Regions from separate parts of the Homo sapiens genome. Here region 1 is linked to region 2. A link means that fine-mapping ties the variant in region 2 to the expression of a gene that starts in the linked region. Tissue or cell type: blood mononuclear cells. Region 2 holds a variant in brackets; the other region holds the start of a gene. All regions are shown on one strand. Distances are from middle to middle.

What was found.
Region 1: it holds the start of DENND1B, and the variant in region 2 is fine-mapped to the expression of DENND1B in blood mononuclear cells (TOPMed, PIP 0.97).

What each region holds. Positions count from the first base shown.
Region 1 is chr1:197,769,925-197,781,840 of GRCh38, forward strand. DENND1B (DENN domain containing 1B) reads right to left here and starts at 5,556. Exons shown (of 23, transcript NM_001195215.2): 1 at 5,215-5,556; 2 at 2,944-3,008. The coding sequence starts at 5,231. RefSeq lists silencers at 4,904-5,413, 5,564-5,763, 6,055-6,349 and an enhancer at 6,724-6,773.
Region 2 is chr1:197,729,372-197,741,287 of GRCh38, forward strand. All of the region lies in intron 2 of DENND1B (DENN domain containing 1B), which reads right to left. It also overlaps the pseudogene RPL24P5. Among named protein-coding and RNA genes, the nearest start is that of DENND1B, 40 kb to the right of the region's middle. The variant C/T (reference allele first, on the strand shown) is at 6,216.

The DNA.
Region 1 (11,916 bases), 41 kb after region 2:
TTACAGAAACATAAATCTCTCAATTTGGCAAAAAAATTTACTTTTATAGCCCTCTTATAGTTATTGATTTTATTATTTATAGCTACTAATTTATCATTTGTTATTTATTATAGTTACTGATTATAGTTATTACTTGTTAGATCCTAAAATATTAGCCATATTCATACTATTTAAGTCATAATAAAAGAAGAAAGGTTACTGCTGCTTACATGGCTGAGTTTAGTTTTTTAAAATATCTTTAGAATTTTCTGCCATTTAGCCATATAGAATGGATTATTTGCAACCTACAAAGAAGCCAACATTATTTACTTTAACCATTTATCATATTTACAACTTTACCAGGCTAGATATAAACTGTTAAAATACAAATGAAGATGTTTCTAAAAAGTAGTGATTTAAATAACAACAGCAAAAAGACAAGGTGTAATATTAAAGCAGGGCAGAAGTAGAAGATACAAACTGGAATAACTAGCTCATGAAAAGTGGAAAAGAGCAAAAAGAGGAAGAAGGGAGTAAACCACTCAAAAGCCTTTATAAGAAGACCACAATCTCTCTGACACATGCATAGATTGGGTGTTATATAAGGCAAATTGATCTTTTAACAAGATCACTTTAATACACATTTAAAATTAGAGAATCCATATTTTCCAAGTGAAATTAGCCTGTTGTGTGTGTGTGTGTGTATATATATCTATAAATATATATAAAAATATATATCTATAAATATATATCTATAAATATATATCTATAAATATACATATCTATAAATATATATCTATAAATATATAAATATATATCTATAAATATATATAAATATATATATCTATAAATATATATAAATATATATCTATAAATATATAAATATATATCTATAAATATATATATAAATATATATGTAAATATATATCTATAAATATATATAAATATATATCTATAAATATATATCTATAAATATATGTATCTATAAATATATCTATATATCTATATAGATTTTTTTTTTTTTTTGAGACAGAGTCTCACTTGGTCACCAAGGCTGGAGTGTGGTGGTGCTATCTCGGCGCACTGCAACCTCCACAACCCCAGTTCAACTGATTCTCGTGCCTCAGCCTCCCCAGTAGCTGGGATCACAGGCATAGGCCACCATGCCTGCATAATTTTGGTATTTTTAGTAGAGATGGGGTTTCACCATATTGGTCAGGCTGGTCTCGAACTCCTGGCCTCAGATGATCTGTCCACCTCGGCCTCCAAAAGTGCTGGGATTATAGGCGTGAGCCACCGTGCCACGCCTTTACAAGCAATATCAGATGAGCGTTACTTCACGCACCTTCGGTAATGTTGTGGTAGATATTTTTTAGATTAACTTATATCATAAACCACTATAGAATAGAATTAAATTGGAGCTGAAAACATAATGTATCCATTTGAGTATCCATTCTACCTAATATATCCATTCTTCAAAGAGGACCCGGTTGGGGCTCAAAATAATGCAAATGGACAAACTTTACTACATACAGGACAATAAAAGATAACTTCATCAACTAGAAAAGGCTCCCTACAACCTAGGATCACTCCTTGCCAATAGACAAACCTGACCACAGCTGCAGTTCAGATAGACCAGGAGTACAGTAGTAGGGCTGGTGGAGCCAACAATATGTGACTTCATACTAAAATTAGCCATGCCCATTTCACCACAACTGGGTTGGGCTTCTCTATTTTAAGGTGTGCAGCTCCAAATTACTTAAGAGTAGGTAATTGCTGGATAGTTTCTGAAGCTAAAATTGTCAGCAGACTTTCCTCCAAGGCTTTAGGATGGCCAATCAGTCTCCACGAAACCCCTATGCTTAATCATCATGCTATCCAGGGTCTAAGCACACAGCAAGTAAAGACATATACTTTAAGTATCTAGAAAGACATACCATGCAAGAACACATTAAAAGAAAATAGGCAAGAAAAGAATTCCTTATTCTTGTCTGCTAACCCTGCCGCCTACCACACATATGCACAATACACAATATGACAAAAGTGGAGGGAAATGATGAAAATCATGACATTAAAGTATTATGCTCTCATCTTTTCAGGAAATTGTACGGAACTGACAGCTGAAACCCTTCCAAGTAATTTCACACTATCGTTTACCTCCCTGCAAAAGTGCTGTGCTATTGGAGTAAATCCAACAGAAGGGGCTACTCAGTCTGCATTCTGCGTTCTGGAAACATCAGAAGGGAAGTGGTGTAGTTTCCATTGGTACTAGCAGGAGAATGTGCACTAATGTTTAAAAAAAGACACTAAATTTCCAAACATAAATGAAAGAAAATGAAAAGATTCGCCCTTTCACCAAAACTAATGATAACTTTACCAACGAATGGTGAAGCTGAGTTGTAAGTTATATGGGCTTAACAACACACCTGAAATTCAAGCTGCACTGATAACATTCATGATTTTTACAATCCCAGGGCAAAGACTTAACACCTATTTTATTACCAGCAACTTGAGACACTCAATGCAGAATACACATTTAGTAGTATTATTTTCCTATTACTACCATGTTCCAGCAGTCCACAATATTAACACTTGCTTTGACAGATTCAATCAATTATTTTAAGAATTAACAGAACAGGCCAGGCACAGTGGCTCACGCCTGTAATCCCAACAATTTGGGAGGGCAAGGTGGGTGGATCACTTGAGCCCAGGAGTTCAAGACCAGCCTGGGCAACGTGGTGAACCCTGTCTCCACAAAAAAATATACAAAAATTAGCTGAGCATGGTGGTGTGCATTGGTAGCTCCAGCTACTCGGGAGGCTGAGGTGGGAGGATCACCTGAACCCGGGAAGGAGAGGTTGTGGTGAGCCCTGATCATGCCACTGCACAGCCTGAGGAACAGAATGAGATCTTGTCCCAAAAAAAAGAGACCTTGTCAAATAACAGAACACAGAAGACACATACCTTCATTTTCAGAGGCATGACATTTCACTTTCAACACCAAGTCAAAGGTTCTGTCTGGATTTGCCCTAAAAGGAAAAAGTTTAAATTAATTTCCTATGACAAATAAACATCTCCATGAAACTTGTATTTTCTTAATTCTAAAACTAATCTTGTTTTTGTCTCAATACATTTCACGTGACTGTATTACTACAGTATAGTAGAAATAACAATGAAACTGTTTTCTCAATTGAGCAACTTAAAAGAGCTGAGACTTAGGAATTCTGAAACTTGGGGCAAAGCATTTAAACGCTGAGACTGTTCTCCCTTACCTATGAGGTGCCTTGTCCACTTCACAGAATAATAGTGAGGATTATAAATCAAATAACATATGTGCAAGTACTTCATTAAGTACTAAGTGCTACAAAAATGCAAAGTATTGGTTTTATCTTATTGGATCAAATTTAAAAGCCAGAGTGTCCCTAAGTGTCATTATACCCTGCCAACAGAGTTTGACACAGGTTCTCAGGCTGTCTCCAAAGGACTTGCAATATAAGTGTAAATGATGAATACATGGTTCCACCTGCCAAGTTCTAGATCACCATAAAACATTGATAATGCTCCATGAATGTGATACGTTGCATATACTTTTCTTAAAATGTATTTACTGTACTTATGCATATTTAAAGTAGCAAACTATTCATAGCTCTAAGGCTAGCAACATAAAAAGCCTTCTTTTTATCCATTATCTTTGGAGAAACCAGCCATCTGCTTCCATGTTAGATTTTCCCACTAGAAACTGTAAGTTTACTTTGCTTAATTCAGAAGTTATTGACTTTTTTACTAACTTGCCATATTTGCAAAATTTCAAAGCAACATTGGTTAAATTTCAAAAAGTGAACTGAAATATACTGAGACACTTTTTCTTCATAACATTGCTGTTTAAATCTCTCGTTCCATCATAAGGTAAAAGATTAAGTCTGTTACCACAACGGCCAATGTGTTAATATCTCAGTTATTCCTGCTAACAAGACCTTAGTGCCTTTGTACATTGGCTGTATTTAATATGTACTTCCTTCAAGAAACGAATGCCAGCTCTGACTTTAAAAAAAAGCATTTCTTTTTTTGGAAGCTTTTCTTATAAGATATGAATCTGGAAACATAGGAAGTGACAAGACATATAAATTAACATGCAAATATACATTTTTTTAGCCTTTCCGCTATTAACTTGTTTCAATGGGAATAATCTGGGCTCAGATGACTTCCTCCCTCTTAAAACAATTAATGTCAAGAAGCATACTATTTTTACTCACTTACCCTGCCCACCATGATGTCAAACACACTGAAGAAAATAATTCTATTACATAATTTCCCTCTTTCCCTAATATTCTTTAGAATTTCTCTTAGGTGTAAAAGTTAAATATTGACTCAGTTTTACTTCTGTGAAATTCAAACGGCCTTTCACAATAATACAAATATACATGGCATTATTTTAAACTTTTTGAGAAGGAGATAGTAAAGGGTGGGTAAGCGAAGTAAAAAGGAATTCTTTCCAAAGTTAAGTTTCAGAAGAAAAATATAAAACTCATGCCTCTAAGATACCTAGAAACAAAATCACCACCGTTATTAAAATTGCTTTTTACCTAATCTCCTGAGCAAAGTAGTCGTTGATAAATACTTTAGCACACACATAAAAGTACCCTCTAATTGGATACCGTTTTGCAAGAACCATGCATCTACAGTTGCTGCATAAAGAAACACCAGAGACCAATCTAATTTTATAAGCAGAATCATAAGAAAACATCCAAGACAAAAGTAACAAACGGACTTAAGAAAACACCGGTTATATTTAATGCTCAGAGAGCACTCGGAATAATAACCTCTTAACCTCAACGCTGACTCCCTCCCGGACACCACACGCACACAGGCAGCCCCAGGAGAGTCACATCTGACACACTCGGGGGAAGCACGAGAACCCCTCAGCGGCGGTGTCAGGGGCCGCCCGGCCTCCCCTGTCCCCCGAAAGGCGGGCGTCGACAAGGCGCTAGTGGCCTCTCCGGGAGGAGCCGCGCCAACCACGGAGGGCCGGGGACGCAGGGCGGGCAGGCTTTGCGGCCTAGCGCCGTCCCGCCGGCCGGCCAGAGGCTTGGGGGCCGGACCGCACCCCCAGCCCGCCCGGCCAACCTCGGCCGCCCGGGGAGCCGGTTGAGCGCGGAGGCGCGGAGGAGCCGAGCTGGCCTGGGAGGGGCCGCCGAGGGACGCCCGCCCCCGACGCGCCCGGGCCCCCCCACTCACTTGGTCCTGCAGTCCATGGTTACATGTCGGTGTGGGGCTGTCCGTCCGGCCCCCGCGCGCTGGCCTGGAAGCCCGCAGCCCGGCCGCGCGAGGGTCGCGCCGTCCCCGCCCACGCCGGCGGCCACACAGGGAAAGAGGCTGCTCACAGCAGCCGTGGCGGCGGGCCCATGTCGGCTGCGCCCCCGGCACTTCCCCGCCTCCCACCCCACCCACCAGAGCCTTTCTGTGACAGCAGCGGTGGCGTGGCCGCCGCCCCCGTCTCCGCCGGTAGCCGCCACCAAAGCTGAGGCCTCTCAGTTCCTGCGACCGGGGCCGCCCGCTGCGGCTCCTGCACCTTCTTGCAAATCAGGAAGTCGCCGGGAGGGGGAAGGGGCGCGCGGGGACGCGCCCAGCGGCTTCACCTGGGCCGTGCGGCTCGCAAGTCGGAGACTGTGGAGGAGGCGGGGGCCAGGTCCCCGCGCCCGGGCGGCCAGAGGGTGCAGGGGGAGCGCTAGTGCCTGCTGGGATGGCCCACGTACCGCTTTGCCACCTAGCCAGAAAGGCAAGGTGCCCCCTGTGTCCTCAGCATGAACCAAACCGGCTTCCTTTCTGGGTCCAGTCCAGATTCCAGGGCGTCGGGGCTGCAACCCCACAAAGGGCGAAGTACCTGGAAAAGTACCTCGACCTGCAGTGTTTTCCACACACATACACACGGACTTGGGTTCCTTTCATTTCATACTACAAATTCAGAGCTCAAGTTGATGCCCCTGGCTCTTGCGTCACTCCAGCTGTGGCCTGCTTACAGCTCTCTGAAATCCAGAGCTACCCCCTCCTGATTCAGGAATGTTCAGACATGTGCACCTGCTAAATAGCCCTGTCAAGTAGCCAAATGGTAGTGCCCCACTTGTCTGCGCATGTGGGAGGCAGACATTCCTATACCACAGACTGCAGTGATAACCAAGGACTAACTTTTGAACACATGTACATAGTCGCAGGCCTCATAGTCTGGCAGTTTAGGCGAGTTCAGAGAGGGCACCACTGAATAAGCGTGGGAGGGACTGATTTACACAGCCCTAAAGCACATGTGAAGCAGGTTATGTGCACTCTCACCCAGTACTTGTCATAGGTGTGTGATAGATACTTTCATCAGCATTTTACAGATGAAGAAACCAGGGAGTAATGGCAAAGCTGGAGTTCACACCAGGTCTATCTGATGCTGATTATTTACTTCTACCTCATATTGCCTGTCTCCCTCCTCTGCTGTCTCATATTTAGGATCTACTGAGAAGACAGGTAGAAAAGTCTTATGATGGACATTCAAATGACTGTGGAAGGCCAGGCTCTTACACAGAGATCTTCTGGGAAAGGCCTTCTCCCAGCTAACACTGCCACCCTTGACACATAGCCACAGTGTTTCTTCCAAAAGGTGGTTACTTCAGACTTTATTCATGCAGAAGTTAAGATGATGAGAGGAAACCAAATGTGGTATGAATGTAGTGTGAGTCATAAGACATAAAAGTCAGAAAAGGAGTCTTAAGAATTAAAAAACTCAAGAGTCAGAGAACCTGAAGTTGCACTCAGTTATATAACCTTAAACTTTCTTGCCAAAATTGGGTACTACTTGGTCAACAGGATCAGAAATATTGTATAGCCATGGGCCTGTTAGTAAAAAATGAGGACGGGCCATAACTGGGAAACAAACAAACAAAAAAAAAATGTGTTTATCATAAAGTGTTGTCATAGCTTGACTCGGGGTGAGACACTTCAGTTTCTCGGTTCCTACATTTGTAAAATGGGAATTATTACTTGTACATCACATGAGCAGTGTGATGTTCAAGTAAAACAGGTGCTACAAATTTGTATTATCTTTTGAGAAATTATTCTGTGAATTTCAGTTTCACAATTAGGCAAACTATACTACATAAGTTTTCTTTTCCCAAATAAAGATTTTTCTGCATAAGTGACCATACTCCAAAGCCTTGAAAAAAAAAATTCGTAAGCTAAAAGCCACTTCTGCCCCAACTGTTACTGAATTTCTCAAACTTCTCCTTTCATTATAATTAATTATTTCCAAAGAAAGGAACCCTACTTGGGGTGACCATATTGAGGACTTTTTAATTTGGTGTGAGGAGATAATAATACAATTGTTTTCCTCATCCATTGTTGGGATTTTATTTTAAATGACAGTCATACCCTTGAACAGTATAAAATTGTTCTTCATTCCATTTATGTTAAGTACATCGAGGGAAATACTACACATTCGCATCCCAAAGCAAATCTTTTTAAGTGAGCTTTTAGGCTGACCATAATGAAGAGATTTATCTGTTCTGTTATTACTGAAATAAAAGGGATAGGAACATAGGTGTACATGATCTACATGCATGAGGTGTTAAAAAATTAGAAAACAAATATCATACACTTACCTTGGTAATAGCTTTAATGAAATCGATGGTATAACTTTAGTAATACTCATTTCATATAGAACTTCCCATATGACTGATAGAGAAGTGTACAAAGGGCAAACCTTCAAATTAGTCTTAAATCTTCCCAAGATCATATTTCAGCAATGATATTTCCTACTCGACAATTAATATTAACAGTTTTCAGGACCATACCAGTCAAAGAACATAGTCTGTATTGTTGTCAAAGAACATGGTCTTTATTTATTAATTAATTTCTTATTAATTAATTAATTTAGTTAATTTTTTAAATGTTTCAAGACTTAAATGTTGTATGTGGTTTGTAAAGAATATATATTCTGCAGCTTTGGGGTACAGTGTTCTAAATATATGTCCATGATCAAATACGATGATTGTGTTGTTGACATCTTCTATTACTGAATTTGCATCTGCTTGACATAATTCAATTAATGGGAGAGATGAGTTTAAATATCCCAACATGATGGTAGATTTTTCTATTTCAGCCTATAGTTCTTTCAGGTTCTACCTTACACAGTTTGGGGCTGTGTAATAATATACACATCAGTTTATAATTTCTATATCTACCTAATAAATACAACCATTCATCATTATGTTGTTACTTTCTTTACCTCCAATCGTACTTTTGCCTTAGATTCTAAACAGTTTTCTTCTGAATAGTATTTGTCTGATGTTAGGATATCTCTTTTCATCCTTTTACATTCAAACTTTCTAAACCATCATGTTTCAAATTTATCTAAAATTTTTAGTCTTGATTTTTAATCTAGTCTGATCATCTTTAGCTCTTACATCAAACCCCTAGACAATTTGCATGTATTAAAACTGTTGATAAATTTAGGCTGGGCGCAGTGGCTCATGCCTGTCATCCCATCACTTTGGGAGGCTAAGGCGGGTAGATTAGTTGAGGCCAGGAGTTCAAGACCAGCCTGGCCAACTTGGTGAAACCCTGTCTGCTAAAAATACAAAAATTAGCTGGGTGTGGTGGGTGGTGCAAGCCTGTAGTCCCAGATAATAAGGAGGCTGAGGCTTCAGAATCACTTGAACCTGGGAGGCAGAGGTTGCAGTGAGCCAAGATCATGCCGCTGCATTGCAGCCTGGTTGACAGAGTGAGACACTGTCTAAAAAAAATTAAAAAAAAAAAAGAGAGAAAAATGCTGATAAATTTAAATCTATTTCTGCCATCTAATTTTGTACTTCCCGTTTGTTTCTTCTGATCTGTTTTTTTCTTTCACTTTTGCATTCTTTAGGATTACTATTTATGCTTTCATTTCTGCCCCCACCTCTTCTAGTTTGGAAGTTATTTACTCTGTTTCTATTCATTTAGGAGTTATCCTAGAAATTTTAATAGGTACATTTTAACTGATTAAAGCCAGAGTTCACAAGGATATCCACCCTCTCTCAAACAATACAAGAACCTCTAAAACCCCCTCAAAACTAAAATCCCCCCAAAAATGCATTATGAATGTTGTTTTATACAGTCCATGTTTGTTTAGATTTACTCAGAACTTTACCATTCTTTTGTATTTTCATTTTAGATCTTCTGTGTAGGATCACTTTCCTTCTGCCTAAAATTCTTTCCCTTTTTGTTTGAGTTGGAATGTATTTATTTATCCCTCACTCTTGAAAAATATTTTCACTGATGAAGAATTCAAAGTTTACTATTATTTCTTTCTGCATGTTATCAATATCATTACACTGTCTTCTAAGTTCCCTAATAACAATTGGAACTTTGAAAGTAATCTTAAAATGTCATCTGTTTTTTCTCTCTGACTGCATTTATGATGTTTCATTTTTGTCTTTAGTTTTCTATAGTTTCACTGTGAAGTATCTAGGTGTAGATTTTTATTCATCCATGTTTCTTGGTTTCTTTAATTTTCTTGACTCTGGATTGGTGACTTTCATCAGTTCTGGAAAATTCTGGACTCCTTTCTTTCCATTCCTTCTGGGACTCTGATAACACATGTGTTATTCTACCCTCCATGTTTGTCAAACATCTCTTTTATAGTATGTCTCTCTTTATCTGTCTACGCTGTATTCTGGAAAATTTCAAAAATATTCTGTTCACTAATTCTTTCTTCAGCTTTGTCTCATTTTCTGTCAAAGTCACCCATTTAGTTTTTAATTTATATTATTTTTATTTCTAAAGTTCTGTTTGGTTATTTTCCAAATCTGTATTCTCTTAACTCATATTTTCAGCATCTCTTTAATTTATTAAAAATATTTAATATATATACTTTAAATTCTATTTCTAAAAATTCCAATATCTGAAGCATTTGTGGGTCTGCTTCTACTAACTGATCTTTTTTCTACTTGTTCATACTTATGGTCTCTTGATTTCTTCTATGTATGTGATTTCTTTTTATGTTATGTGATCCTTAGAACTTTATATATAGAAATTGAGTGACAGCTGAAATGAAAATGAGTTCTCTGGAGAAGATATTAATTTACTGCTGGTAGATGCTTGGGATCACTAGCAATTCAGAAACATAAACACTAAATTCTCAGCTTGAAATTCTTCAGACCATTCATGTGAGACCTGGTTTGTAGCTATGAATCCTCTGGGAAGCTTTTTTCCCCTTAACTATGCTCCATTGTTTGAGACAATTGTCCTTGAATACCTTTGGGGTGTATCAGCTTTATGAAGAGTATCCTGTTGGATTTCCCACATTAGGAAGGGTCTGAAGACCCATAAGACCATGATAACAGTTCATGGTCTTCCAGTTCATCCAGCTTAGGAAAAACCCTAAAGATGAAGATGAAAGGTGGCTTTTCTTTTTTTTTTTTTTTTTGAGATGGAGTCTCGCTCTGTCGCCAGGCTGGAGTGCAGTGGCGTGATCTTGGCTCACTGCAACCTCCACCTCCTGGGTTCAAGCAATTCTCCTGCCTCAGCCTCCCGAGTAGCTGGAACTACAGGCACCTGCCATCACGCCTAGCTAATTTTTGTATTTTTAGTAGAGGCAGGGTTTCACCATGTTGGTCAGGACGGTCTCCATCTCTTGACCTCGTGATCCACCCACCTCGGCCTCCCAAAGTGCTGGGATTACAGAGAGAGGTGGCTCTTGTAGCTACTTTTATTTGTCCCCCATCCTCCACCCCTAAGTATTCTCACTTGATTGCCTGCTCTTCAATGCATTGCAAGCTTTTAAAAATACTTAATTCTGAATTTTTAGTTGATTTTCATGCAAGTTTTGATCAGACTATAATGGATAATTACTTGGTTCTGACTATAGTGTCATGTAAAATGGACTAATTGCAACTTTTTAATCCACCTAATAAGGTCCACTTTCCTCAAACCAGGTCCAAAAAGTCCCCAACTTATATATCCCTATATATTAATGGTGTAGAGAAACCCAAGTTCAGGGCTTTTAGTGAGCCAACTGCCCTGATTTCCAGTGTACTATGACAATTAGAAAGGTAACTCCTGGCTTCCCAACCCCAACCACTTATTCATTGAATCCTTGTAGTAATATGCCTTAAACAAAAGTGAAGAGTTACTGATACCCAGGACTACTAAAGTTGACAGCTCCTTTCCCTTCTGAATGCGAAATAATAAACACTATTGTAAACTCTAGAATGGTATTTTTAAAAATAATAATACTATTAATAATGCTTCAGGTTCAGTATAAATTAACTCGACTAGACTCATAAGCCTCACCAATGTATATGAAGATTTTGAGTTCCAAACAATTAACTTAGAAATGAATTTTTTGAGGCAAGCATCTCATGAGTTGTAGCTAACATGTATCCAAGTCAGGCATTTCCTAGACTAACTCTGCACAACCTCTTATTACTATTCTTAGGTGAAATTTATTAATAGTATTACCACCTTCATTTATTATAGAAGAAAAGTTATAAAGTATTTAACAAACTGAATTTATTGAAGCTCTTAGGAAACTATCTTTAAATTATTTTATCAGGACCTGCCTTTTAATATTGACTGAGATAGTGTTGTTAAGGAAAACATCCTCCTGGCATGTTGTCCTTTTTATACTTAGCAGCAATATCATGAATTTCAATCTGAAGGTAAAATCTCCCTCAACAAGACATGTGAAATACTTTTAAAATAAAGAGAAGATGGAGGTGGGGATTCGGGATCAATATCTTCCCTGAAAGTTTGCCTTTCTGAGTTGTTTCACACCTCAAAGCTCATAGAGTTAGCATTCTATGTTGATTTAAAATCCAGTTTAATAAAAATGTTGTCTTCCAGTTTGTGGACAAAAGAACTCAGATAAATTTTGACACCTTTACTACCAAATCTGAACATATCCAAATATTTCTAAAATTC
Region 2 (11,916 bases):
ATAAACTTTATTTGCTTATTTTAATGTGCTTATTTTAACAAGTAGCTGGCTTACCCTAACATAAACCTGATCAATTCTGATTTAAAGGTAATATAATAAATCAAGTAATCCTTAACACCAAAGAGAGGGAAGTGATCTGCCCTTATTTTCACTACATATTTTCACTAAAGATAACAAGCAAATGAGCAGAGTAAAGCTATTACTAATTAAGAAAGCCCCATACTTCAAGAAAGAAATAGGCAATTAAATAGTAATCATGTAGAATAAATAGTAATTATACAAATTATCCTTGGGCATTTGCCACTGACGTGTTTTTAGTTAGCCCCCATAATGTACAGCACAGTACCTCTCAAGCTTTTTGGTCTCAGGACTGATTTATTCTCTCAAATATCACTGAGGTCGTCAAAGAACTTTTGTTTAGGTGAGTTATAGTAAATGACATTTATGTATTAAAAATCAAAACTTAAAAATTAGTAAAGCACAAAAATCTTCAAGTACACACTTCATTAGTCATCAGAGTTATAACTTCATCATGTCCTGAAGCCTATGCAAAAATCTACCATATACTTGTGAGAAATGGGAACGAAAAAGGCTAATAATGCCTCACTACTACGAAAAAAGTTCTGACCTCACAGAACTCCTGAAGTACTCCAGGGAACCGCCACAGACCCCTAGACTACACTTTGAGAGCCAGAGGTATATCACAAAGAATTTTAAAAACAGATTAAAATAATGTTTTTATGTATGGTATAAAACTTGTTTTCTAATTAAGATTTTCTTTAAAACCTGAGAAAAAGTCAAGGTATAATTATTTATACCTTATATATTACACAAATATAGTCCCTTTTTACAGGTAGAAAAGACAAAGGGGAGATTTCAAGGTTAAATGCCTTTAGGATATATAGGTAATAAAAATGAGTAGAGTGAGCCTACAAAAGACAGACTATAAAAGGACATGTAGTAAAAAATAGATCCCATTCCCCTTCCCAAAAAAGCAACCATTATTCAGCTCCATCCATGTGGAATGTGGGCCCAGTGTTGACAGATACTTTTGATTTTTCAAGAAAATCCAGAATATTTATGAAAACAAAATCACCTAATTTTTAAGTTGGGAAAAATAATTAAACATTTCATGAATACCATGTGAGCCAAATAAGGTGTGTCAGGGGGCCATTATTTTTTATCTCTGTATTATGACATGGGAACTTAAATTGGAAAAGAAAAAATTCTTTACGGTTAATCACATGTTTAAAGTAAAGGGCTACTTGAATTTTTTAATCTGTTACGGTGGCTTTTAGACTGAAAATAGTTTTTATCTAATTTTTTTCAAATGTGCCACACTAAATGCAGGAAAATTAATCCTAATTTTGCAGATTCTAAGGTTAACATTTTAAAAGAAAATGAACATGGACATTATTAAACCTGTTTCCTTGACCTTAAGAACTTTTAAAAAAATAAGTTAGACACAAGTTGTTTAATCAGAATTGGTACATATATAAATTATATATGTATATTATTTGACATTTTTGAGATGTCTGAATTTTATAGGCACACTATCAAAAGAAAATACAATCTCAGAATAGGGTTGATCACTTTAAAAATTAGCTTACTAGAGCCCATAATGTTGATATTACCATATGACAACTTCATGATTCAACATAAAGGACAACTGAAATCTGGGAGGATACTGGCTACTAGAAAGTTTCGAGGAATAGCAGACACTACTTTATTCTGGTAACTTCTTGAGAGTATTTACATCACAACTTGTAAGAAACAATGAGAAAATGAGACATCCAAAAGGATTAAAACAGATTAGCAAAGAACTCATAAAGAGAAGAATTATGTCCTTTGGAACAACAAACAGAATCACACATTTAGAAAAATAATTATTGGCTGAGAAACTATAGCAGGAAAACAAACTGAAAGAAAAAGAATAAATTTGAAATTCATGACCTCAGACCAAAAATATGCTTATATTTGTTGTATATTCTAATACTAGTCTATCCTCTAGGAAAGTGAGCAATTAATTCCCATTTAGGTTGTCCTAAAAAAAAGTAGTAAGGAAGTAAAACAATAAAAGAGTTGGGGGATTATCATTTGAAGTCTAAAACTTTCAGTAGTATATAATTATATCTTCAGTGAATTCTTAAAGCATTCACGGCATGGTAGTTACGTGGCTGGATACTGAAGTCAAACTTCATATAGACATGCCATGCATTGTCATTCACTCATTATACACCAGGGGCGTCCAATCTTTTGGCTTCCCTGGGCCACAGTGGAAGAAGGAGAATCATCTCAGGCCCCACATAAAATATACTAAAAATAGCTGATGAGCAAAAAAAAGGAAAAACTTTTAAAATGCTGTAAGAAAGTTTATGAATTTTTTGGCCACATTCAAAGCTGTCCTGGCCACATGCAGCCTGCAGGCCATAGGTTGGACAAGCTTGCTATACATGATCTTTCTCAAGCTACACAGCACTCTGTGCCTCACTTTTCTCCAATGTAAAGTAGTGATAATAGCAGTACCCACCTTGAGAGATGTTGATAGGATGAGTGGAGATTACATATATTCACTATATCATTATATGCATTCACTATCACTATTCGCTATCACTTTATTCATCATTGTAAGGCGAGATGGAAAAAATGCTGAGATACTGATGCAGAAATTTGACCATAGTGAACAGAGGTAATGCATTAAGCAAAATGGTAGGTTATTACTGGCTCTTTCTTTCTCTTCATATAAATTTACCTCCCCTCACCCAGGACCTTCCCAAGTCTGGTCACTTGTTTTGTAATGCCATCCTTCTATACTTCTGTCTTAAAAGAGTAATTCCTTAAGAAATTTTTACATTTATGGTCAACTAATTATTAGTTCAAAACTTAAGAGTGCTGCACAACAGCTCACCACCCATTCCTAACTGGCCCACCTATGTGTTTCACGTGTTCTTCTTTCCTTCAACTCACTCTCAACTTCTATTTTCTATACTTATCTCTTTGCCCTTACCTCATTATCACTCAATGGCCAGCACAATCTCTCCTCTCTGTCACCTTCTCTATCTCCTTTCCTCATTTTCTGTCATGGTAAAAGTGAAACTGGGTAACTACAGGAAGAAATGTGTATTGTTACCAAAGGGAATCGGAATAATAGAAGAAACATTAAGTTAGTTAAAAGACACCATGGCAGACTGATCCTTAGAATATGACTCAAATAATACAATATAAGCTGCTGCTTCCCCATATGCATAGTTATTCTCAGGAATAAGTTACATACATTAATACATCCAAGCAAGAAGCCCAAGTGCATAAAACCTTAATTATTGCTCAAGATTGATATGTGACTGACAAGAGGAGAAGCAATTAGTCCAGGTTGGTAAATAAAAGCAGACAGATGACACAGTTACTAGCAACTTAACTTCCATCACCTCTAAATGGACTGTAACTACATTCTTGGTATTGACAATGCCAATATAAGATCAGACAGAGCCTCCGGATTCTTTGTACACTAAGATGCAACCATCTCCTCCAAGGAGTTGTATAATAACACTGCCCACCAGACCTATGTATCAACAGAATAGGTATCAAAATGCCAAATACCAAATTGGAAAGAGTCTTAATTATGTACCGCAGATATGCAGTGTCCTACTTCTTTATTTCTATAGACAAACATGATCATATTAAACAAGGAAATTGGGGAAAAAAACAATGAAGAAAAAGGATCAAGATTTTGTACTCACACAACAAGAAAATAAATATTCAGAACTTGACAGAAGTCTATAATGGAGCTTTTTAGGAAAAAGAGTAAATACTAGACATCTACTGTTTCCTGCATTTATAGTGTGGTCTGCAATATACACTCTTCAAATTATGAAGTTTAAACACCTATGTTTAAGAATAAGCACAAAAAAAAATTAGAAATATGCATGTATTATTAGACCTCAAGTATCCACCCCTGACAGTTATTTGCTTAACCTGTTTTTATAAACACAGCATACAAACCTTGATGAATGTTTCTCCTGTTATTCTTCTACCTTACCCAACACTTTTTCCCCCTTACCAGCTTATTTTACGGTCAGAGGTTAAACTGCTAACCCTTCACCTTCCAGGAAAGTTTTTTTTCCTCTCTCATAAAAGGTTTTTCACAGTGTGCAGCAGTCGGATTAGCTCTTCTCTTCGAGAACAAAAGCTCTGTCTTTGTCTTCGTTGTTTGGGCATGGAGCCCCTACATCAGAGGAAGCTGCTCCTACTCAACATGCACAATAATGATATTGTGAGGCCCCACGAAAGCCTGGCCTCTCAGTGTCTAGACTCTCATCCAACCAGCTAGCCAAAGAGAAAATCCTGTCAAGCACTCAGCTGAAAATTAACTAAGGTATCCTGTTGAGAACCTGATGAAGATGTTATTTGACCATACGGTAAAACTTTCTATTGTTGAACATAAAGATAAGAGAAAAACTTTTAGAACTCAATGCTTTAACAATCCTGGTCACCAATTCACACATGGGTCAGTAAATGTATTTTACCAACATACAACCCCTTCCTCTATACGTGCTCTTAAAATAATACACAGGCTTATTTATGATATTCTAATCTCTTGCATTTAAAAATCTGTGCAACTAAAAGATACATTCAAAAAATTACAAGAAATTATATTTTATTTGCAGTATTTACATTAAATATTTATCATTAGAAATTCTGCTACTGTATTTTTCACTGAAGGACCCAATCAAAATGCAGAAGTCAAAATAAAACTGTCATATCTTTTCATATTCCTGAATAAGTTTTAAAATATTGAACAGAAGAGAAACAGTAAACTAAAAAGTAGATAACTGATTAAAACTTAGAAATGAAAAGAGTATATAAACCAAACCATTCTTATAAAAACTATCTGTAAATTTTTTAACCTGTAAAAAGTTAAACACATTAGATAAATTTAAATTCAGTCATATGATGGTAGTGAAAGATAATTCTCTCAAGTATATTAAGTTATGGTTGAGTTCATGAATATTTACAAGGGGCTTTGGGGACTGCTGCAGTTTATGAAATATTTTGTAATTTAAACCAATAGCAACAACAAATATTGAAAATTAAGTGAAAACTATATATGATTACAACCACATTTAATAAGCTCATATTGAAATCTAAAAAGGAATACACAAAAATAGATGTTTTGTGTTATTGGTATAAAAAGAAAAATCTTTTTCCTTCTTTCAAAATTGACTGCAATACATTACATTCGTAATTTAAAAAAAAAAACTTTGCAAAATAATCAGAATAGTTCAAAACCCTACAAACAGACAGCAATTAATGAAAGATAAGGGTGTAACTACTGTATACAGGATTCAGAATTAAAGAATACATCATTTGTTACATACTCCATAGAGTAATATAAATTGATTTCCCAAATTTTAGGAGAAACATAAATATGCTTTTTTTTTAACCTACAACAAACTTAACAAAAGAAATACATTTATTCATAAGGGGGAAAATAATCAATGCTTATACATAGCAGATGTCTGGCATGGAGGAGTATGTTCCTACTCTTTTAATAGACACATGAAAATCTAAGCCTGGCAAACAAAAATATTTAAATTAAAGACTCTGGAACACAGTGGATAAGTAAGAACTGGCAGAAAATGTTAAATATTTCATTCCTACTTCTGTAGAAAAAGCGGACAAAATTTTAACAAAATTTAAAAGAACATTTCATAAAACAATAATATGCAATTTTAAGAAAATAGATTTGGTTAAATCTATATTATATATGAATAATACAAAAGTTAACAGAAAGGTACAAAAAACAATATTGAATGGGTCCAACATGCCTACCATTGAGTATCTTTTACATCAATGAATTAGCAATCTGTAAAATGATTACAGTACCAAATACATCCACCCAAATACTGGAGGCAGAATGGCTTTATTCTACTATACCTCTGCTTCAAGTGGTTTTATTTCCTCAGAATGCTACACAGCTCCACCTTGGCTTTTGGCAATTAAACTAAATAAAATTTAAAAGTCCAAGACCTCAGAGAATTCACTGTTAAAAAAAAATACTCTGAAGCTACTTCTCATGGGTTCTCGGGTACATTTCCTTTGTTAGAAGAAGTGATCTAAAGTTTTGCTTAACAGTTTATGTTTACTTTAGTGTGAACTATGAAACATTCCATTTACAAAGTGTTCTTAGACTTTTATGAATTCTAAAGGGTATTACT[C/T]GAAAATACAGGTTGGGGCCATCTTTTCTCCTCCCGTGGAGCTGCCGCCATGAAGGTCGAGCTATGCGGTTTCAGCCGGTACAAGGTCTACCCCGGACACGGGAGGCGCTACGCCAGGACCGACAGGAAAGTTTTCCAGTTTCTTAATGCAAAATGCGAATCGGCGTACTTTTCCAGGGGGAATCCTCGGCAGATAAGCTGGACTGTCCTCTACAGAAAGAAGCACAAAAAGGGACAATTGGAAGAAATTCAAAAGAAAAGAACTTGCCGAGCAGTCAAATTGCAGGGGGCTATTACAGGTGCCTCTCCTGCTGATATAATGGCCAAGAGGAATCAGAAACCTGAAGTTAGAAAGGCTCAACGAGAACAAGGTATCAGGGCTGCTAAGGAAGCAAAAAAGGCTAAGCAAAGTATCTAAAAACACTGCAATGGCTGCTGTTAAGGCACCTACAAAGGCAGCACCTAAGTAAATGATTGTGAAGCCCGTGAAAGTTTCAGTTCTCGAGTTGGTGGAAAACGCTAAACTGGCAGATTAGATTTTTAAATAAATATTGGACTTAAAAAAAAAAAAAGAAAATATAGGTTGGAATACTGCAAAACAACCCACTCTTTTGATTTCAAGCTCAATTTTAAGCTGCAGATTCCAACTTTTATTGAACTTGAATAGCAAAAATTTTGAGTCAGAGATAACATAAGATCTACTCATTTTGAGACTTGGGATTAAATGGTTTGCCCAATTCTTTCTACCTGTCTGTCTGTCTCTCTATCTATCTATCTATCGAGACAGGATCTTGCTCTCTTGCTCAGGTTGGAGTACAGAGGCACAATCATAGCTTACTGCAGCCTCAGTTGAGGCTGCCTCAGCCTCCCAAATAGCTAAGACTACAGGCGTGTGCCACCACACCCAGCTAATTAAAAAATAATAATAATTTGTACAGACAGGGTCTCACTATGTTGTCCAAACTGGTCTTGAATTCCTGGCCTGAAGCAATCCTCACACCTTGGCCTCACAAAGCACTAGGATTAGAGGTGTGAGCCACCATGCACAGCCTCTTATGTTTTAAATTAAAATAATAAATTCTATGTATGTCATAAAAATCATCCCTGAGATAATCTGTGATAAATTTGTTACTGTAACCTTTCCTTACAAATGCCCATACTGCATTCCTGTTGTACTGGAATGTCTATTCATTAGCCCCAAGGCTCTACTGATCTTGCTTGCCTTTCTCTTAGACTGCTATTCAGATTTTTGTTATACCACTCATTCTGAAAACAGCTTCCTTTTTATTTGCGACTGCTGAGTACACACCCAAGCATCTATTCTTTTGAATGTCTCTTTGAGACTACTTCATAAATGAGATTTCTCAATACTAGCATTTATGCAAGACATCAAAACTATTGCTATGTCTCTTGAAAATCACTGAAGACTGACTAATTGCACATAAAAAAGCCTATTCTGAGTCTAAATCATACTTCATCTTTGATAAGCCCTCATCCATTCCTAACTCTATCCCAGTTCTTCCAATTGCACACATAGGGCATATCAGAGACACTGCTCCTTTCCTACAATCAGCTATAAGGCAGCACACCAATAAACCTGACAGCAACATCTCCAACAGAATAGTGGGAAAATCATCTGCCCTATGTCGAAGTGGTTGGATCTAAGCACCACCATAGCCCTATTCCTTTAGACAATGGCTTCAAACTTTCAGATGCATAACAATCACCTGGGAAACTTTTTCCAAAATGTAGATTACACTCCCACCTCCATCCTTAAAATAATCAAAGTATGTCCCAGGATCCTGACTTCTCAATAAATCATCTATAGCTCTAAATCACATACTGACAAACACTGAATAGCAGCTCTTTCTAAACACTTGTGGACATCTGTCTAGCAACATTAAACATTCCATCTTGGAGGTATGACAAAACTCCACAGGCCCCTGAAAACAAGGAGATTTTTTGCACTCTATTAGACTTGTTTGCCTCTATCTACTAAGCATTATAGGAGATTCTCCTACTTAATCATTACGGTGAGAATGCAACAATGATTCTTATTCATTTTTAGGCCTTTTCTTAGCTAGACAAGAAAAACATTCACATAGGTATCCAGGATCTAATTTACTACAGGTAGGGAAGCCTCAAGATTCTAATTATGTAAAAATTGGTGAATTTAAAAATAAATACTTAGAATTCTGCTTCAAAAAAAGAAAAACAAGTAAAGCTATGTCTTCCTGTTGAGTTACAATACACATCTCCCTTTAGTCTGGTAGAACTGTGTTTTCCAATCACCTTGAGGAAATAAAGCATTACTTAGTTCTAAGATAAAATTTCCAGTATTATGCTGAAATTTTATTAGAAAGGAGAGGGTAACATAGATATCTGACCTGGAAGCAGATAACCCAGCTCATTTTCTTCCCGCAGGTTTTGATTGCCTCCTAATTTCCTATAATTTATTGTCCCTATTTACTTTCCCCTTCAACTGTATTTACACAGATTTCTCTGACACCTGTTTATTACATTTCTTCTCCTCTCTGTCACTGATCCAGTATGAATTAGCATGCATGAGTACCCTCTGTTATATAACAGGACAAAGGGGAGTATCTAATATTATAACTGGAAAAGAAGCTTTCATGACAAATGATTTTGAACCAATGCTGAATTTTGAATTTAAGGTGCTATTTTTCTCATTTAGACATAGAAGTATTTTCCTTTCAAAGCCAAAAAATATCAACATTAAATCCACATAGAGAATGACAGCCAGGTCACAACAATTCCCTCGTTTCTGGGAACTACATCTTATACCCAGGGTGGGTTTTCAGTAGTTGCATCCACAATTGGTGAATGTGACCTCAGGCCAGAGCTGATAAGTCAAACACATGACCTAATCTGGCCAGTTTCTTTCTCATAGAAGACTTGGGTTATTAACTGTGAAACACAACATGGAAGATGCTGATGCAGAATCACTTTTTGGCAGAAAGATGACAGAAGATCCTCAGAACTTCCATGGTAACTATATTCCCAAACATTATTTACCCATGTACTTAGTTACCATAGCTTTTCTTCTAACCATAGATGCAGAATGTTAAAGCAGCACTTTTACATCCATAAACAGGACATCTGCTTCCAGCCAAGAGAAAGTACAAACTGTATTTGCTCTCTCTCTAACAACTAAAAATCTAAAAAAATACATTAAACAATTTTCAGACATTAGTAAATGCAGGACAGTGATCCCTGACAGAGATAAAACAAACAAGGTAAGCCTTACAATTGGTCTTAATATCTGGAGTTTCCAGGATGTGGCACAAGGTGGGAGAAACCCAGGCAGAGCCCAGTGGTCTTCCTGAGATGAGGTTGGAAGGCCAAAGCATCTAGACTCCACAAAGAGAACAGAGACGAAGCTGCACAGGAATAGAGCTCTGGAGAGCTGCAGAAGGTTCACCACCAACCCACCCAAGACTTTAGTGCTGATGATCAGTGCACACATATGAGGAAACTACCAGACACTGAGGAAAGAATCACCCAAAAGAAATGGGGGGGAAATCCCAGGATCAGCTGACATTCACACCACCCAGAGTGGGAAAACCTCATAATCAACAAGAGTATCCTGTACAGTACTCAGAGGGTAACACCTTAGCAGTGGGACAAAATCAGCACTGGACTGAAGATGACTCTGGTTTCACCTACCAAAGCTTAAAAGCAAGCCTCAAATGTTCAAACTGTTTCCAAATAACTTAACTGTAATCTAAAACAAAACCTTAAGTGCATATGGGACATATACGAGAAGAAATCATATAATGCACCATAAAGCAAGTCCTAACTGATTTAAAAGGATTCAAGCCATACCATGATATTCTCTGGAATTACATTATCAAAATATAACAGAAACATCACAGGAAAATCCCCAAATATTTGTAACTTAAATAACATACTTCTAAATAACCCAACGGTCAAAGAAGAAATCAAAAGGAAATGAAAATCTAAATGAACTCTAAATGAAAATAAAAACAAAACTGATAAACTGATCAAAAGAAAGGACTATTCTCTGTGAAAGACAATGTTAGTTAAAAGCATGAAAAGACAAAATACAGATGGGAGAAAAAAATGCAAATCCAACAAAGTCATTGTATCCTGGATATATTAAAATCTTTCAAAACTCAGTAATAAGAAACCAACCCAATAAAGAAAATATAAGAGAAAGAGCTGAACAGACATTTCACCAAAGAAGATATACAGATGGAAAATAAGCAAATGATTTCATCTTAATAAAACATAATTGAGTCTTAAAATGCTTCCACCAATTTCTAAGAAATCAGACCTTTACCTCTAAATTAGAATATGTAATGTGCTAAGATATTCTTAACAGTTCCTTTCAGTTACCCTATGAAAATTTTGCACTATCAAATATAATTTTGCATCAGCAAAGACAATCACTACAGCCCTGAACTTGTGTTTGATTTGGGGCTGGGCAGGCATATAACCTAATTATGAGCGCAAAAGGAAGGAGAGTGCGATTTTAATTCTGTTAAGTTGGTTAAAGTGAGACTCACTGACAATGAGCAAAAACTTGAAAAAGGTAAAGAAATTACTTGTGCAGATATCTTGGGAAAGTGTATTAGAAGTAAACAAAAAATGCAAACCCTTGAAGGAGCATGCTTGATGTTGTTCCAGGGATAGCAAGAAGCCAGTGTGGCTGCAGTTAAGAGAGCAAGGGAGAAAAGTGGGAAAGGATGAGGTTAGAAATGTAAACAAGGGGGATTTGAGCCAGTTATATGGAGCCTTGTGGGTCCCTGGCAAGTCTTTTATTTGAATGATTTGAAAAGGCAGAGGGATGAATAAAAAAGGAATTATGAGCAAGAGATCCCTATATGGGGAAGACTGAGTCTCAGAAAGTCAAGGTTTGAGAATTGAGGTTGTAGACAAATTTCTATTACTGTATCGAATATGCTACACAATATATTTTGAAAACTATCAAAAGGAAGATGAAATCCTTGCTTCAGTGAGTTGATAATGTAGTTGAAGAACTAAACAATAATACAATTAAAATGACAGAATGTTTAAATTACAAGGGGCTTTTGGATAGTCTATAGCTTTTGTTTACCTGAAGGAACTTGAGTCAAGAAAGGAAAAATGATTTATGCAAGATCATATAACTAGTTGTTGGTTCAGGCAGAACTAAATTGCCACCTTCATTAATAAGTTCTTTAAAGTCCAGTTTATCAATGGTATGAAGGACAAGCTGAAGAAAAGACTATACTTATGAAGCACTTTTGCAAGATAAATAAGCATTTGTCACATTCACTTGCTTTCCTGACTTCCAAATTTCTGTCCTACAATTTTGAAGGAAGGAGTGAAAAGCAAAGCTAACACCTATGTTGATAAGTAAATTTAGTAGATCAAAAGATAAAAATCCTTCTGTATTTTGATCAGAAAAGCACACAAAGCTTTTCATATGAAGACTATATTTTCTTCCTAAAAAAGAAAAAAAGACTATTTTCTGGAATTTCTCTAGGCTACAAAGAGAAAGGATAAGACAAGTAAATCATTATCCTCTATGTTGATAAAGCTTGCTTCCTTCAAATCAAGATAAACACCGCTGGCTGGTAAAAAATAACATCTCCTGCCAGAGTCCTCTCACTGAAGCAGTAGTACTTCTGACATATCCCAAGATAGAGTAACCAATTAATTCATGTGCATATTC